2 separate regions of the Homo sapiens genome follow, and region 1 is linked to region 2. Evidence: fine-mapped expression QTL. Tissue or cell type: whole blood. Region 2 holds a variant in brackets; the other region holds the start of a gene. All regions are shown on one strand. Distances are from middle to middle.

Region 1 (8,103 bases), 400 kb before region 2:
ATCGGCACGGAAAGAAAGAAGCCGCGCCGCAAACGGAAGTATACCTTTTTTTTTTTTTTTTTTTTTTTTTTTTTTGAGATGGAGTCTCACTCTGTCGCCAGGCTGGAGTGCAGTGGTGCGATCTCGGCTCACTGCAAGCTCCGCCTCCCGGGTTCACGCCATTCTCCTGCCTCAGCCTCCCGAGTAGCTGAGACTACAGGCGCCCGCCACCACGCCCGGCTAATTTTTTTGCATTTTTAGTAGAGATGGGGTTTCACCGTGTTAGCCAGGATGGTCTCGATCTCCTGACCTCGTGATCTGCGCACCTCGGCCTCCCAAAGTGCTGGGATTACAGGCGTGAGCCACCGCGCCCGGCCTCTCCTGTATTCTTTAGTTCAGCATCTATCACTTCAAATATCCTGTCCAGAGCAGTAACAATAAAATTCCTAGGGGAGGGGATGAAAAGCAGTCAGTTCCCACCTGAGAGACTGAGGGGCCAGGCCTGGGTCCTTCCCTAACAAGAAACGTGTGTTAACCGTGATACATGGCATTTATAATCCACTTTATCCAGTTGCTCATTCTGCTCCTCGGTACGTTAGATAACTGTCTCCTAGTCACCCAGTGATTTCCGGAAACCAGTCTTATGACTGAACACTTCTCCCAGTGCAGGGTCTCTCCCACTCTTGGGGATCTCTCTGTCTCATCAGTCCGTTGATCATGGGAGGACCTATAACGGGGCCCACAGCCTGTGCAGCTACAGCAGCTTCCTCCTCATTCCCTGCTTGTTTTCCTTCTGGGAAGTTCTCCTTAATCACTCCCTTCACTACCTTCCTGCTGGTATCCACTACGGCCTTTTATGGCCTGTGGTTGCTAGGCTTGGTGGTTATAAAATAATGTTAGTGGCCAGGTGCGGTGGCTCATGCTTGTAATCCCAGCACTTGGGGAGGCCAAGGCGGGTGGATCATGTGAGGTCAAGAGTTTGAGACCAGCCTGGCCAACATGGTGAAACCCCACCTCTACTAAAAATACAAAAATTAGCTGGGCATGGTGGCAAGCGCCTGTAATCCCAGCTACTCGGGAGGCTGAGGCAGGAGAATTGTTTGAACTTGGGAGACGGAGGTTGCAGTGAGCCGAGATTGAGCCACTGCATTCCATCCTGGGTGACAGAGTGAGACTCTGTCTCAAAAATAAATAAAATAAAATATTGCAAGTACAATGAAGCCTGTGCATTTAAATTGTTTGAGTTGAGTAGCTTTGCTCATATATCTCTTTTTTTTTTTTTTTGAGACCGAGTCTTGCTCTGTCGCCAGGCTGGAGTACAGTGGAAGGATCTCGGTTCACTGCAACTTCCACCTCCTGGGCTCAAGCGACTCTTCTGCCTCAGCCTCCAGAGTAGCTGGGACTACAGGCGCACACCACCATGCCTGGCTAAGTTTTGTATTTTTAGTAGAGATGGGGTTTCACCATATTGGCCAGGCTGGTCTCAAACTCTTGACCTCATGATTTGCCCGCCTCGGCTTCCCAAAGTACTGGGATCATCTTAACAATGAATGGGACCTCTAGCTCTGAGCAACTACTCTGGTCACAAAGGGTGATAGTGTTGATGGCTGCATGAAAATCCACCCGCTGTGAAGGAGAAATGTGAAGTAGACACACTACAGCGATGTCTTACTATGTAACAAAGGACATCGTTATAACTAGTTAAGTGCTTAGGAAGGGAAGTCATTTTAAAGGCTTTATACAGAAAAGATAGCATAAATGTTTGGGACTAACCTAGTCCTTCCTTTATCACCTCTAGGAAAGAGAAAAGATAGTTGATAATCTACAGTGCAGAAGACGTGTTCTGAAATGTGGCTCGCTGGTGGAAATGAATTTGCCTAGAGCTTTTCAGACTTAACTTGCCTGGTTCCTCTAATAAAAGTGGACGTGATGTTTACAATCAGGGCCAGGAAGCAGGGAAGGAAATCACTGACTTCTGGGAGCATGGACTTTACTGGCCTATAAGCTCCTTGAGGATAATCTTAAGTCTGTGAATACTCATTTCTGTATCCTAGAAGTGTGCCTAGCAGAGAAAGTACTTGGTAACTGTTCTTCTGAATATGGCCTTCTAAGCACATGTCTCACGTAGGCCAATAATGTCCTTTATTTTATGAAGTGCAGTGGAACTTAAAGGTACTAGCAGGTCTGCTTCCACACAAGGTGATGAGCCTCAGAGATCTCTTCCTTAACAAGACAGGGACTGGTCCTTTAGGAAAACAAAGTAAATACTATTTTGAGAATAATTACAAAAACACCTTTTGGGGGTAACTATCTTTGCAGAATGCTCGCTATGTGCCAGGCACAATTCTCATTTAATTTTACAACATTAAAATAGAGTTGCCATTATTTTCTTCATTTATATATGAAGAGAATGAGGCTCAGAGAAGTTAAATAAGTTGCTCAAAGTCATAGCTAGTGAGTGGTGATTTTGGGATTTAAACTCAGGTGTATGCAACTGCAAAGCTCACCCTCTTCCTAAACAGTACCTGGCACACAGTAGGTGTTCAATAAATACATTTGGAATGACTGAATTTTCCCCTCCTCCATCTTCATCAGCTTATACTGGCCTCTCCCTGGCTCCTCCTCTGACCTGGCCTGATGTTTCAAAGTGACACTGACCTGCCTTTAAAGGGTTTTATTTGTAGAGAAGGGATCTCGCTGTGTCACCCAGGCTGGTCTTGAACTCCTGGCCTCAGCCTTGGCCTCCAAAGTGTTGGGATTACAGGTGTGAGCCACCATGACTGCCCGATTTAAAGGTTTATTTATTTATTTATTTGACACAGGATCTTTGCTATGCCGCCCAAGCTGGAGCACAACGGCACAATCACAGCTCACTGCAACCTCCAACTCCTGAGTTCAAGCAATCCTACAGCCTTAGCCTCCTGAGTAACTAGGAGTACAGGCATTAGCCATCATGCCCGGGTAATTTTTATTTTTTATTTTATTATTATTATTATTATTTTTTTTTGAGACGGAGTCTTGCTCTGTTGCCCAGGCTAGAGTGCAGTGGCGCGATCTCGGCTCACTGCAAGCTCCGCCTCCCGGGTTCACGCCATTCTCCTGCCTCAGCCTCCCGAGTAGCTGGGACTACAGGCGCCGCCACCACACCCGGCTAATTTTTTTGTATTTTTAGTAGAGACGGGGTTTCACCGTGTTAGCCAGGATGGTCTCGATCTCCTGACCTCGTGATCCGCCCGTCTTGGCCTCCCAAAGTGCTGGGATTACAGGCGTGAGCCACGGCGCCCGGCCTTATTATTATTTTTTGAGATGGAGTCTCGCTCTGTTGCCCAGGCTGGAGCGCACTGGCGCGATCTTGGCTCACTGCAACCTCCGCTTCGGAGGTTGAAGCGATTCTCCTGCCTCAGCCTCCCGAGTAGCTAGGATTATAGGCCCACGCCACCACGCCCGGCTAATCTTTTTGTATTTTTAGTAGAGACGGGGTTTCACCATGTTGGCCAGGCTGGTCTCGAACTCCTGACCTCAGGTGATCCGCCTGCCTCAGCCTCCCAATGTGCTGGGATTACAGATGTGAGCCACCGCGCTCGGCTAATTTTTATTTTTTATAGGGATGGGGTGTCAATATGTTGCTCAGTCTGGTCTCGAACTCCTGGGCTCAAGTCGTTCTCCTGCTTCAGCCTCTCAGAGTGCTGAGATTACAGGTGTGAGGCACCACGCCCAACCCAATTTCAAGGTGTTTGAAGAGGCCACTGTTAAAATGCACTGCACCTTACCTGGGAGAAAGAGCTCAGCCCTCTTTTGACACCTTAACATGAATCACTTCTCTATCATCCATAACAGTGCAAAAGCTCTGGGATGGGTCCAGGTAAATCTGGATTGGGAAGAAGGGGAGTGGGAGGTAAAGTCTGCAAAGGAGTGAGGGAAGGCAGAAGGCCAGAAGAAAGTGTCTGAAGACAGAATTACTCCTGCAAAATTTTCACAAGGGTCAGGCACTATTTTCTCCCGGGATGCCCAATACATTTGCAGAATTAACAGTAATCAAGCCCACAGTCCAGGTCCTCGCATAGTTTGGGCCTTTAAAGTCGGCCATCCCAGATTGAGGGGGCCTGACCCCTGGGCGAGGCCGCCGCCTCTCAGTTTTGGGGCGGTGGCGACCCCAGTCCGGGAGTGGCCCCGGTAGGTCCCCGCAGGCGGGCAGGAGCTCCGAGGCCATTGGCTGGCGCGCGGGCTGCCAAGGGGCGGGGAGCGCCGCCGAAGGGGACTGTTTGCTCCTACGGGCTGTAGATGGAGCTGTCCGGCCCCGGAGAGGGGGAAGGCGCCTGGAAAACGTTCTTCTTCTCCCTGGCCGACCCGAGCGGGGAACAGCACTCCCAGGATGCAGTTTGTGTCAACACGGCCGCAGCCTCAGCAGCTGGGCATCCAGGGCCTGGGGCTGGACAGCGGGAGCTGGAGCTGGGCCCAGGCTCTGCCCCCGGAGGAGGTCTGCCACCAGGAGCCGGCGCTGCGCGGGGAAATGGCCGAGGGAATGCCGCCCATGCAGGTGGGAGAACCCCGCCGGCGCCATGGCCGCGCTGCCGTGGGGGCGGGGCGCGGGCTGGGCCGCGGGACCGGGCCGCGCCGTCCTCCGGTAGCCTTGCGGCGCCCTCCCAGCTTCCGCGCCCAGGCGAGGCCCGAGGCGGGCGGGGCACGGCCGGGCTGCGCGGCGGGCAGGACGGAGCGGGCCCGACGCAGGCCCGGAAGGGCAGGCCTGGCCCGCGCGGCGCGGAGCAGCGGTCGCCGGGCCCAAGTGCGGAGGCCCCGCGGGGCGGGGGCCGGGACCGTCCTTTCCGGGACCTGGCAGAGCTCTGACCCTGTGGCTGAGCCCCGGCTTGGGGCTCCCTTTGCGCCCGGCCGGCGGAGAGCTTCGCGGGCAGTGCTTCCGCCCGGCCGCAGAAGTGAATGCCTCGTTCGTGTTTACACGGTGGCCAATTTGACGGGGATATTTTTTAAATGTTTGATTACCACCTTTCACCAAGTGTAATGAGTAATTCACTCTCCCCCTGCACCGGGTGTGATCCAGGGAGGGGGCCATGGAGAGATGACTTCGGGGTCTTTCCTGCGGTTGACAAACTTGGCCGCATGTTGGAATGGCCTGGGCAGCTTTTAAGACTCCTGAGCCCTTGCCTGGTCCCAGAGCTCAGGGTCTCTGACGGGTGAGAGTAGCACCAGGCATTTCTTCAGGCTCCATCGATGATCTCCGTGGGCAGAACCGGTGCTCCAGAATTGGGTATAAAACCAGGGGAGGTGGATCCTCAGAGAGGCCTGAAAGCTTGCCCAGGGAAGACTCTCTGGGCCCACCCTGGGGCTGGGCTGCTCAGGGGCCCCTCTGCTCACCACGCGGCTCTCAGCCAGGTGCTAACGAGGGAGCCAGGGGCTGCTGTGTTGTGTTTGATCATTTTCAGGGTTAGGGCTTCAAACCCGAGAAAACTAAACTGGGCCCCGGGACTTTCTTAACTTCTACTGTGGACTCTGTCCCCTTCTGTGGGCTAGGGCGGAGTGGAGCCTCTGTGATGGAGGAATGGGTGCTTTTGATGGAAACACCAGCACCTCTTACTGGTATTACAGGGCCTGGCGATCCTAGGGCCCTGCTCTCCACTCTGCTGTGTCCCGGAGCAGGTCTGCCCCGGAGCAGGGCTGCTCTTGAGTCAGAGAGTGGGGCTGGTCTGCCCAGATCGCCCCAAGCAGCAGGCCTCCCCTTTTCCTAGCCTGAGGGCCTTTTCTGCAGCCATCGGGAGGACAGAAAATGACACCTCTTCCTGTCCCAGGTGTGAAGGAGAGTCGGCTGCCAGCCCATGTGGTCCAGTGAGCCCTGAGTCTGACACCAGGTCCCAGATGACCAGTGAACTGTCACCAGCCTCAACCAGCCCCCCTTAGCCATAGGTCTCAGCTCTCAATTGCACCAATTAGTTTACCCTTCTGGGGTGAGGGCTCTGTGCTGGAAGATAAAAGGGGGAGTCCCCAGGCCATGGGGCACCCCTTCCCCAGGAAGCAAGGAGGGGTCCCAGAGGAGTTTTTCTTTCTCTTGGTCCTCTTGGGTGTGAGGGACATCCCCTCTTCACCTCTAATGAGTGACCTTTTTTAGTGAACCTATTTTCAATTTGGAAAATGTTTATGAAACAGTAGTTGTATATGGGGGGAAGCTGCTTTTCTGCCCTAGCTTGGGCTCTCCGGTCTTTTCCTTGACTGCAGCCCTGGTAGGAATGTGGTGGGTTTTTTTGTTGTTTATTTGTTTGTTCCGAGACGGAGTCTTGCTCTGTTGCCCAGGCTGGAGTGCAGTGGCACCATCTCGGCTCACTGCAACCTCCGCTTCCCAGGTTCAAGCGATTCTCCTGCCTCAGCCTCCCAAGTAGCTGGGATTACAGGAGCCCACCACCACACCCGGCTAATTTTTGTGTTTTTAGTAGAGACAGGGTTTCGCCATGTTGGCCAGGCTGGTCTTGAACTCCTGACCTCAAGTGAGCTGCCTGCCTTGGCCTCCCAAAGTGCTGGGAAGGTGTGAGCCACTGCACCTGGCCAGGAATGTGTTTTTTGTTACCTGCAGCATCTAGAGCTGCCCCAGCTGGCAGTGCAGGGAGGCGCTGCGGAGTGACCAGCTGCCTCCCTGTGCTTCAGTTTCATCATCTTTAAGGCAGAGATCATCATTCTTGCCCTAACCTGCTGAGAGATTGCTGGGAAGATTAGCGTCAGCTAACTTACATCAAAGTTCTTGGAAACATAAAACACTAGGCAAATACAAAGTTCGTCATTAAGGCTAGCCCTTGAAGAAATCAGTTGGTCTATTCAAAGAAAGTGGCCTGTGACATTTTAGGCAGGGGTTGCAGCCTTAACTTGCTAAGGGTCAATGTGGGTGAACCAGTGACCAGCCTGACTCACCTAGGCAGGAGATGGGAGAGTGTTGAGTTGGGTGGGTGGGTGAGTGGGTAGCTGTTGCTGGGGGTGTTAGTGTATCCTGAGTTACGGGGGCCTGGCAGAAGAAAGACGACATGTAGCATCTGATTAGTTGACCCCTGTTCCCAGCTGACTTCCCCGGCTCACACAAGGTCTCATCCTGGGTTGTCGCTTTCTCCCTCTGCATACAGGCTCAAGAATGGGACATGGACGCCCGGCGGCCAATGCCTTTTCAGTTCCCACCCTTTCCAGATAGGGCACCTGTCTTCCCCGACCGCATGATGCGAGAGCCCCAGTTGCCCACAGCAGAGATCTCACTCTGGACTGTGGTGGCTGCCATTCAGGCTGTGGAGAGGAAGGTGGATGCCCAGGCCAGCCAGCTGCTGAACCTGGAGGGGCGCACGGGGACAGCCGAGAAGAAGCTGGCCGACTGTGAAAAGACGGCCGTGGAATTTGGGAACCACATGGAGAGCAAGTGGGCCGTGCTGGGGACCCTGCTGCAGGAGTACGGGCTGCTGCAGAGGCGGCTGGAGAACTTGGAGAACTTGCTGCGCAACAGGAACTTCTGGGTCCTGCGGCTGCCCCCGGGCAGCAAGGGGGAGGCCCCCAAGGTATGTGGTGGTCCCTGGGGCAGGGATAGAGGTGAGGAACAGCACAGGTGCATAAAATTCTTGATTTCATTTTGTCAGCCCTTCTCATAAACTTCTCTGGCTCCCCGTTATCCAATTTCAGTGTCTTCTTAAAGCCTGTCTCCACTGAAACAACCTGGTCTTGGACGTTCTACCCCAGCAAGGCTCACTCCATTCATTCCCCACAGTCTGCATTTCTGTCTGGGAGCCTTTGCTCTCGCTGTTCCTAGACCCCTCTGAGTTGTCTGGTTGTCTGCAAGTTCTTGCAGCTCTTCACTCCTTGGTTTTCCCACTTGACACCTACCAGCGATCATGTGTCATTGGCTGTCTTGGTATATGCTCACCGGAATGTGGCTGGAGTCGCACCTCAAACCAGGCTGCCTGGAGTTGCTTTCAAGTCGTAGTCACTTATCTCAGGGGGGCCCTTCTTAAAGTTCAGAATGCACACTCCGTATCTTACTCCGTTCCCTCTCCTGCTTTCCTCCCGGATCCTCAATGCTGCTTTTCAGTTCACTGAGAGAACGGAGTCACCCAGAAGAGGCGTCCACATGCAGCCAGCTTGTTCTTCCAT
Region 2 (8,103 bases):
ACTTTCCTACTCTGTAGCCACAACCTGAACTCCTTCAACTATCTCCTCCCATTCCCTTACTCAGTACCTGATGGGAATAGGGGATGAGGGTTGGGGGAGAGGCAGGTGTAAGAATCAAGGCTGTATTAGTCAGCTATTTCCACAACAATGTGTCACAACAAATCATCCCAAAATTAGGCTGTATGAAACCATAAGCATGTCTCGTGCTGATAGGTCAGCAGCATGGATGCCAATCAGCTGATGTAGGCTGGGTCTGCTTCAAGCTGTGGGTCCATCTGTGCTTGGTTTCTGTCTGAGCCGGGCTCAAGTTTGCTCCATGTGTGTTCCTTCCACAATCCCAGCTGGAGGAGTAGCAGCTAGCAAGGGGACACTCTTCTGGTGGTGACAGCAGAAATGCAAAGGGGGAGGCCCAACTATGCAAGCAGCTTTCAAGCCTCTGTTTGCATCACATGTGCTAACATCTCATTGATCAAATCAAGTCAGAGAAGCAAGCCCTAACTCAAGAGCAGGGAAGCATGTTCCACCTCTAGTGGGAAGATCTGCAAAGTCTCATGGTGAAGGTCACAGATGCAAAAATAAGTGAAGATCCAGGGCCACTTCCAAGTGGTTCACTTGTGCCTTGTAACCCCTGAGCCCCCAAGGCCGGTTGTTTCCTGCTTGCCTTCAAATGGAGGGATTAATCTGATCAGGCCCAACTGCCCTGCTTGCTTTTTGTTGTTATTATTTCCCTATTTCCACGAAGCTGAAGGCCACCGTACCTGAAAGCCTCAATGCTCAATGCAGAAACTTAACTTTCATGGGAGGCTTTATAGAACTTACGTAGGTCACATGGTGATGGTCACTTCAGTTGTTTTTCAGGCACTTGGGCCAGCTCCTGTCCAGCTAAAACTGGTTTAGACAACTGACTCTTCAACTGGTCTGAGCAAGTGCCTGAGAGGTGGCCTTTTGATATAAGAGGGCCAAAAATCTCACCCTCAAATCATGCTAATGCCACAATTTTCTGTGGATATGTCCTGTGAAATGTCATGGCATGTACCTGGAGTCCCAGCTATAGAGCAGGCTAAGGTGGGATGGCTTGAGGCTGTAGTGAGCTATGATCATGCCACTGCATTTCAGCCTGCGTGACAGAGCAACACCTTGTCTCAAAAGAAAAAAAAGAGAAGGAAGAAGGGAAGGAGGGAGGGAGTGAAAGAAGGGAAAGAAAGAGAAATAGAGAAATGCCTTTGGTCTTTGATGTTGGTAACCTTCAGATGGGGTTTTTGTGTGGTCGTCCTTTTCGTTTATTTGATGCTATTGCTTTCTGTTTGTTAGTTTTCCTTCTAACAGTCAGGCCCCTCTTCTGCAGGTCTGCTAAGAGTTTGCTGGTGGTCCACTCCAGACACTGTTTTCCTGGGTATCACCAGCAGAGGCTGCAGAACAGCAAAGACTGCTGACTGCTCCTTCCTCTGGAAGCTTCGTCTCAGAGGGGCACACGCCAGATGCCAGCCAGCGCTCTCCTACATGAGGTGTCTGTTGATCCCTGCTGGGAGGTGTCTCCCCATCAGGAGGCACGGGGGTCAGGAACCCACTTGAGGAGGCAGTCTGTCCCTTAGCAGAGCTTGAGCACTGTGCTGGGAGATCCACTGCTCTCTTCAGAGCCGGCAGGCAGAAAAGTTTAAGTCTGATGAAGCTGTGCCCACAGCCACCCCTTTCCCCCAGGTGCTCTGTCCCAGGGATATGGGAGTTTTATCTACAAGGCCCTGAATGAGGCTACTGCCTTTCTTTCAGAGATACCCTGCCCAGAGAGGAGGAATCTAGAAAGGCAGTCTGGCTACGGAGGCTTTGTGGCGCTGTGGTGGGCTCCAACCAGTCCAAACTTCTGATAAATTATAAAAATATATGTAACGTTAAAAACAGCCATGCACTGGGAATGGAGGTGTAGTTCAGGGTAGAGCTTTCCACACTAGCAGCGGAGTTTTCTGGCCAAAACCTGGAGGAGCTGTGTGGTCCTCATGCTATGTTGTCTCCATGATGCTTCCCAGGACTACTCTCTGATCCATGTCAGGGCCTAGGAACTCCCCCAACTTCACCAAGTCTTTCATGAACTGGATTTAATGCAAAGATCCCAGACTGAGAGATATCTATATATGTCAGTACTGCATGTGTCTCAATTTGTGTCTCCAAACTGCTATTTTGTAGTGTAAACAAGAAGACATCAAACATGGAGACCTAAAGGCTGTTCCAGCAGTAAACGGAAACACTCCTCTCAGCTGCTCCTGTCACCACGGACTGAGGGAAAGCGGGGAGATTGTGCAGGCATGTGAGCAGGGGCCAGGGTTTGGCAACTGGGGATGGACTTTTCTGGGGTGAGTTTGTGGTAAAATCAGTTGCTGGTCTTACTCTCTAAAAGTAAGCAGGAACTTTCAATGTGCTGTAGGACTCCTGGGTGCGATTACCAACATGAAAAGTGGTTATTAGACACTTATGACAAGCAGGGCGTATAGCTCAGGGGTAGAGCATTTGACTGCAGATCAAGAGGTCCCCAGTTCAAATCTGGGTGCCCCCTACTGCACTTTTTCTATTCATACAAGCTGTTATATTCTTCACAGAAGCTGTTGGTCACATTCCAGTTTCTTTTCATCCATTCCACCTATGATTTTCCCTGGAACTGGAAGCTACAGCTCAGGCCTACCCAGCTGCAACCTGGCTGGATAACTTCTCCCAGCACCAGTTCCACGGGTATCCCTCATATTCTTGGTATTCTTGGTATCTAGCTCCCTGCTCCCCCTATAGATGTAATTTCTCAAGCTGTGATGCAGTATGCTTCTGGGTTTTTCCAGGGCAGACCAGAGAGTAGTACTGCAGCAGGCTCCCCAGAAACAGATGGGGAATGGTACCCCAAGTTATCACTCTCCTGGCTCCTTCCCACAGCAGCAGTTTGGTGCACTGGAGTGGTGGCCAGACCTGGGGAGACACATCACAGCACACAGCATTCCCATGGAGGGCAGATGTTTCCCCTGGAGAATTGCTCCCACGCAGGGCTCACTCACACCCTTGCTTCAACCTTATAGGCCAAAAGCCTGGCTCAGCTACTCTAACAAGGGAGACAGAGGCTCTGCAGTGCTGCCCCTACGACCAAACTCCTGTAGCTCTGCGGCTGCACGTGAATTACAGCCCACTCTGTGACTGTGGCCCAAGGCTTGGAGGTGGGGGATTAGACTCAAGAGTCTGTTCGTATGAGATGATTGGGAATTCCAACTTTGTTCTGTGGGCCACAGGGAGTCCTGTGTGCTGCAATGAAGAACCAGTGAGGTCCTTTGTCTAAGGAGGTCATTTAGGAGACATTACAGATACTGGTTTGGAGTTTGCCAAAAGACAAGAACAGGAACTGGTGTTATTTTTTTAATGCTTACTATGCCCTACTATGTGCTAATATCATGCTAGGCAGTTTATCATCAGTTATCATATTTGTCCACTCTGTCTTCACTGCAGGAAAAAGGGAGCCGGGCTGGGAGCTTGGGTTAGTCTGTGGACTGTTTTGGACACCAGTGGCCAGCTCTTGGGTTAACCCCAAAAAACAATGGGAAATGGCTCTGAGTTCTGCAGACAGCCTCCATCCTTTTCTCCTGCTCATGGCTCCACCCAGAGACAGACCTGGTGAACTGCAGAGCTGAGGGAAGGTGTCTAGCTGTGAATCAGGTCTGGCAGCTTCCAGAAAGTCAGTCCTGGAGGGAAGCCATCATTTAATTTTACAAAGCTGAGTGTTCCCATACTGATAAAAGGTACTAACTAGGTAACCTCAGTGTGCCATGGGGGTAAAGCTCTGGGCTAGAGCTTTTGACTGTAGAGCAAGAGGTCCCTCGCTCAGATCCAGGTTCTCCATTCTTTATGTTCAATGTTGGTAGATAACTTTATCCACATACAACTTAGACTGGCATAGGCCACACAGAGGGTAGGGTCACCTTCTCAGTCTCATTCTCCACGTTGCCCCCAAACAACAGCTCCTCCACTATCCCTCCACGCTTCTCCTCTCTCAAAACCATCTCCTTCCACCACTCTCTCCTCTCACCATTCATGTCTTCTCTGACATATGGGACTCCACAAACAGTGGACACTTTTAGAACCAGGCTAACAATCTTATTTTCCTCACCGCCCTCTCCTTCTGTCCTCAGGAATGTCAAACACCATGGCAATGTGCGTCCAATGCTAAGGCCTCCAGAGATTTCCATCCTGCTGCCTCTACGAATGTTCACAAACTCCACTCACTGAGGCTCTCAAGGGGTGTGGTGAGGCAGAGTCAGCGTTTTCCACTAGTGTCTTTTACCCTGCTTCTTGAGGCAGGAGAATCGCTTGAACCCAGGAGGCAGAGGTTGCAGTAAGCCGAGATCTTGCCATTGCACTCCAGCCAGGGCAACAAGAGCAAAACTCCGTCCCCCAAGCAAAAAAAAAAAAAAAAAAAAAAAAACCAACCAAACAAAAAAAAACACAAAACTTTCCCTTACCACAACTTCCTCAAACATAGTTTACTCTGACACCTGTATAACCACTGCCAATGCTCGTTCCCTAATTAAGTTACATTACTTTTCAGAGAGATTCTGCCTGTTATTTAGATTGACACCACCTTTTATTGGCTTCTTTGCTTTCTCTGTCTGACTTCCCACTCCCTACTGGTGTTTCCTGAACTTATCTTCCAAATAAACTACCTGCTCTTACATTTTAGTTTCAGAGTCTCTTTCTAAAGAAATCTAAACTAAGACAACAGATTAAAGGAGAAAAATCA[C/T]GTCATTCAAATAGATGAAGAAAAACATCCAATCAAATCCAACACACCTTCGTGATTCAAAAAAAATTCTTGGAAGCGAGGATAAATATTCTACCTTCTTAATATGTCACTAGCTGTCTACCTGAAATATAAAAAGAAATATTATTTAACGGTGGGGTCGTGAAAGCTTTAAATTGAAAAATGAAAGAAAGACAAATATGCTCTTAAAGGGAAATGGAAACTGAATTGAGGAGCAAAAGACTCTAAAAAAATCACCAAATATATTTTTTAAATGAATCAACTAAGACATTCCAGAAATGAAAAAAAGTATCAACATCTTCCTTTTTATTTACTTTTAACTGAAATATAACTAACAATAAGGTATAGAAATCTTTAACGTACAGCTCAATTAATTTGTACACATACACACAAATGTACCCACCTCCTAAATCAAGATATAGAAGACTGAAAGGAATGCTGCTATGAACAAGAATCTTGCATGTACACAGACACACTCTACTCTCCGTATCTAGGAATACAATTGTTGAGGAAGTGGGTGTTTCTATTTTTGGCTTTAGCCAGTAAGGTCGGACGGTTTTCTAAAGTGGTTCCAGCAAATCACACTACCACTAGCAGGGGATGAGAGTTACTATGGCTCCACGTACCATCACTGAGTAACATCAGTCTCTTTCATTTTAACCAACCTAGCAACAATTCTAGCAATAGTTCACTGCGGTTTAACTTGCACCTTTCTTTTCTTTTCGTTTTGAGATGGAGTTTCGCTCTCGTTGCCCAGGCTGGAGTACAGTGGCACGATCTTGGCTCGCCACAACCTCCGCTTCCCGGGTTCAAGCAATGCTCCTACCTCAGCTTCCTGAGTGGCTGGGATTACAGGCATGCGCCACCAAGCCTGGCTAATTTTGTATTTTTAGTAGAGATGGGGTTTCTCCATGTTGGTCAGGCTGGTCTTGAACTCCCGACCTCAGGTGATCCGGCCGCCTCGGCCTCCCCAAGTGCTGGGATTACAGGTGTGAGCCACCGCGCCCGGCCTAATTTGCACCTTTCTAGACTCATGAGGTTTGAGCATCTTTTCATAGGCTTATTGGTCGCTTGGATGTCCTCTTCTGTGAAGTGACTGCTCAAGTCTCTTCTTCATTTTTCTACTAAGTTGTCCATTTTTTAATTGTCTTGTGCAATACTTTATATATTTTGGGAATAAACCCTTCATCACTTATGTGCAACAGATACCTTCTCCTGCCATGTGGGTTCTTATTCTCTTACTTGTGTTTATTGGCTCTCATGAATGTTAGCTGATTTCTCTGTGAGCTTTTTATCTGTTCAGCAAACGGTATATAGAATTTACTACCTGCCAGTCCTGTTTTATGTGCTTTACGCAGATTAACTCATTCAATCTACACAACAATCCATGAAACATACGCTCTTTTTTTTTTTTTTTTGAGATGGAATCTCGATTTGTTGCCCAGGCTGGAGAGCAGCTGCGCGATCTGGACTCACTGCAACCTCCACGTTCCTATTTTAAGCGATTCTCCTGCCTCAGCCTCCCGAGTAGCTGAGATTATAGGTGCCCGCCACCACACCCGGCTAATTTTTGTATTTTTAGTAGAGACGGGGTTTCACCACATTGGCCAGGCTGGTCTCCAACTCCTGACCTGGTGATCTGCCCACCTCAGCCACCCAAAGTGCTGGGATTACAGGAATGAGCCACTGCGCCCGGCCACTGCTTAGCCCTTCTCGTATCCTGCCTTAGTGCAAGACTGTCTCCTTCCTGATTCCTCACCATGGGTGGGGCCTAAGACTTCTTCTTGGAAATGCCCATTCATCATTGTACTACTGACATCCGGGCCTCCAGAATCCAGCGATGTCCAGGGTCTTCTGCGACTTCCTGGACTTCGCTCTTGTTGCCCAGGCTGGAGTGTGATGGCGCGATCTTGGCTCACCGCAACCTCCGCCTCACGGGTTTAAGCAATTCTCCTGCCTCAGCCTCCCGAGTAGCTGGGATTACAGGCAAGAGTCACCAGGCCCGGCTAATTTTGTATTTTCAGTAGAGATGGGGTTTCTCCATGTTGCTCGGGCCGGTCTCAAACTCCCGACCTCAGGTGATCTGCCTGCCAGGCTGCTGCCCAGGCCCTGCCAGTGGGGAGTTCTGTGCTCTTGCAGGCTCATCAATCCTCCGCATCTTCCTTGGCAGTCCACCCTACTGCCGAAAAGGGAAACCCAGAGGATTTTAACGTTATCATATAAATCACTGCGGAAGTCAGTGTTTCCCGAGGCTGTCAGGCCAGGAGCGGAGAGGAGTGGCTGGCTGCTGGCTGCCTTCTGAGAAGGTGCCCAGGGCTACAAGGCAAAGGCCTGTGGGTAAAGGAGAAAATTCCAGCAGGAAAGAAAGGCAGTTTGAAGAAGAGACAGTTTACCAGCTCCTATGACAAGAGCAGAGGCGGGGCCTTGGCACAGCTGAGGAGGTGAAAAGGAGTTAACCCAAGTGTTCCTCCAAGTCTTCCTTCTAGAAAGGACAGGGTTCTGCCTGCCATCAGGAAGGTCACGTGGGAGGCTGGACACAGTGGCTCATGTCTCTCATCCCAGCACTTTGGGAGGTCAAGGCAGGAGGATCGCTTGAGACCAGGAGTTTAAGACCAGCCTGGGCAACATAGTGAGACTTCACCTCTACAAAAAATAAAATACATTAGCTGGGTATGATGGTACACACCTGTGGTCCCACCTACTTGGGAAGCTGAAGTGAGCTATAATTGTTTCACTGCACTCCACTCTGGATGACAGGAAAACACCCTGTTACTTAAAGACAAAAATGAATCAAGTGGGGTTGTTGTCTAGCAACATATTCTGGTCCTTGAAACTATGTTAACGCTGGCCCTCTTAAGGCTTTCGGGGATTCCAAAATCTACTCAGCTACCGCCTTCTCACTATTTCTTGGAGTCGCTCCTTCTCTATCATTCTCCATTAATATTAATTGAAGAAGTGAAAGCTGGAAGAATCACCTTCTGTCCTAGATTGTAGTTGTGTTGGAACACTGGACCAGGAGAGCCAGGCCCAACTCTGTCATTAAGTGTTTTAGAACAGACACCTCAGTCACACAAAGTTTCTCTTGTATGTGCCCACCATAAACAGTTACTGGAGGATGACTCTCAAGGCCATTCTAGTGGCTGCTGGCAGTGCTTTTCCAGCCTGCTGCCCATAACTAAGGACTCAAGGCAGGGAAGACACAGGCACGGGGGTTATCTGAGGAGCGGGGACTGCCTCTTGCTATGCACAAGGTCAATGAGTTTTCACTGAGGTAGACCTGGCAGCTCCTAGGAGCTTCCATTGTGAAGTGGCAACACACAGGTGAC

What was found. PIP is the estimated chance that this variant, and not a neighbour inherited with it, causes the effect.
Region 1: it holds the start of ZNF282, and the variant in region 2 is fine-mapped to the expression of ZNF282 in whole blood (TOPMed, PIP 0.98).

Annotation. Positions count from the first base shown.
Region 1 is chr7:149,191,239-149,199,341 of GRCh38, forward strand. It overlaps ZNF282 (zinc finger protein 282), which reads left to right and starts at 4,308. Exons shown (of 8, transcript NM_003575.4): 1 at 4,308-4,516; 2 at 7,095-7,514. The coding sequence starts at 4,352. RefSeq lists silencers at 3,976-4,265, 4,084-4,405, 4,526-4,885 and an enhancer at 5,326-5,375.
Region 2 is chr7:149,595,482-149,603,584 of GRCh38, forward strand. It overlaps TRC-GCA20-1 (tRNA-Cys (anticodon GCA) 20-1), which reads left to right and starts at 2,474; the gene lies at 2,474-2,545. It also overlaps the pseudogene ZNF767P. RefSeq lists silencers at 4,484-4,684, 5,124-5,324 and an enhancer at 5,433-5,592. The variant C/T (reference allele first, on the strand shown) is at 4,760.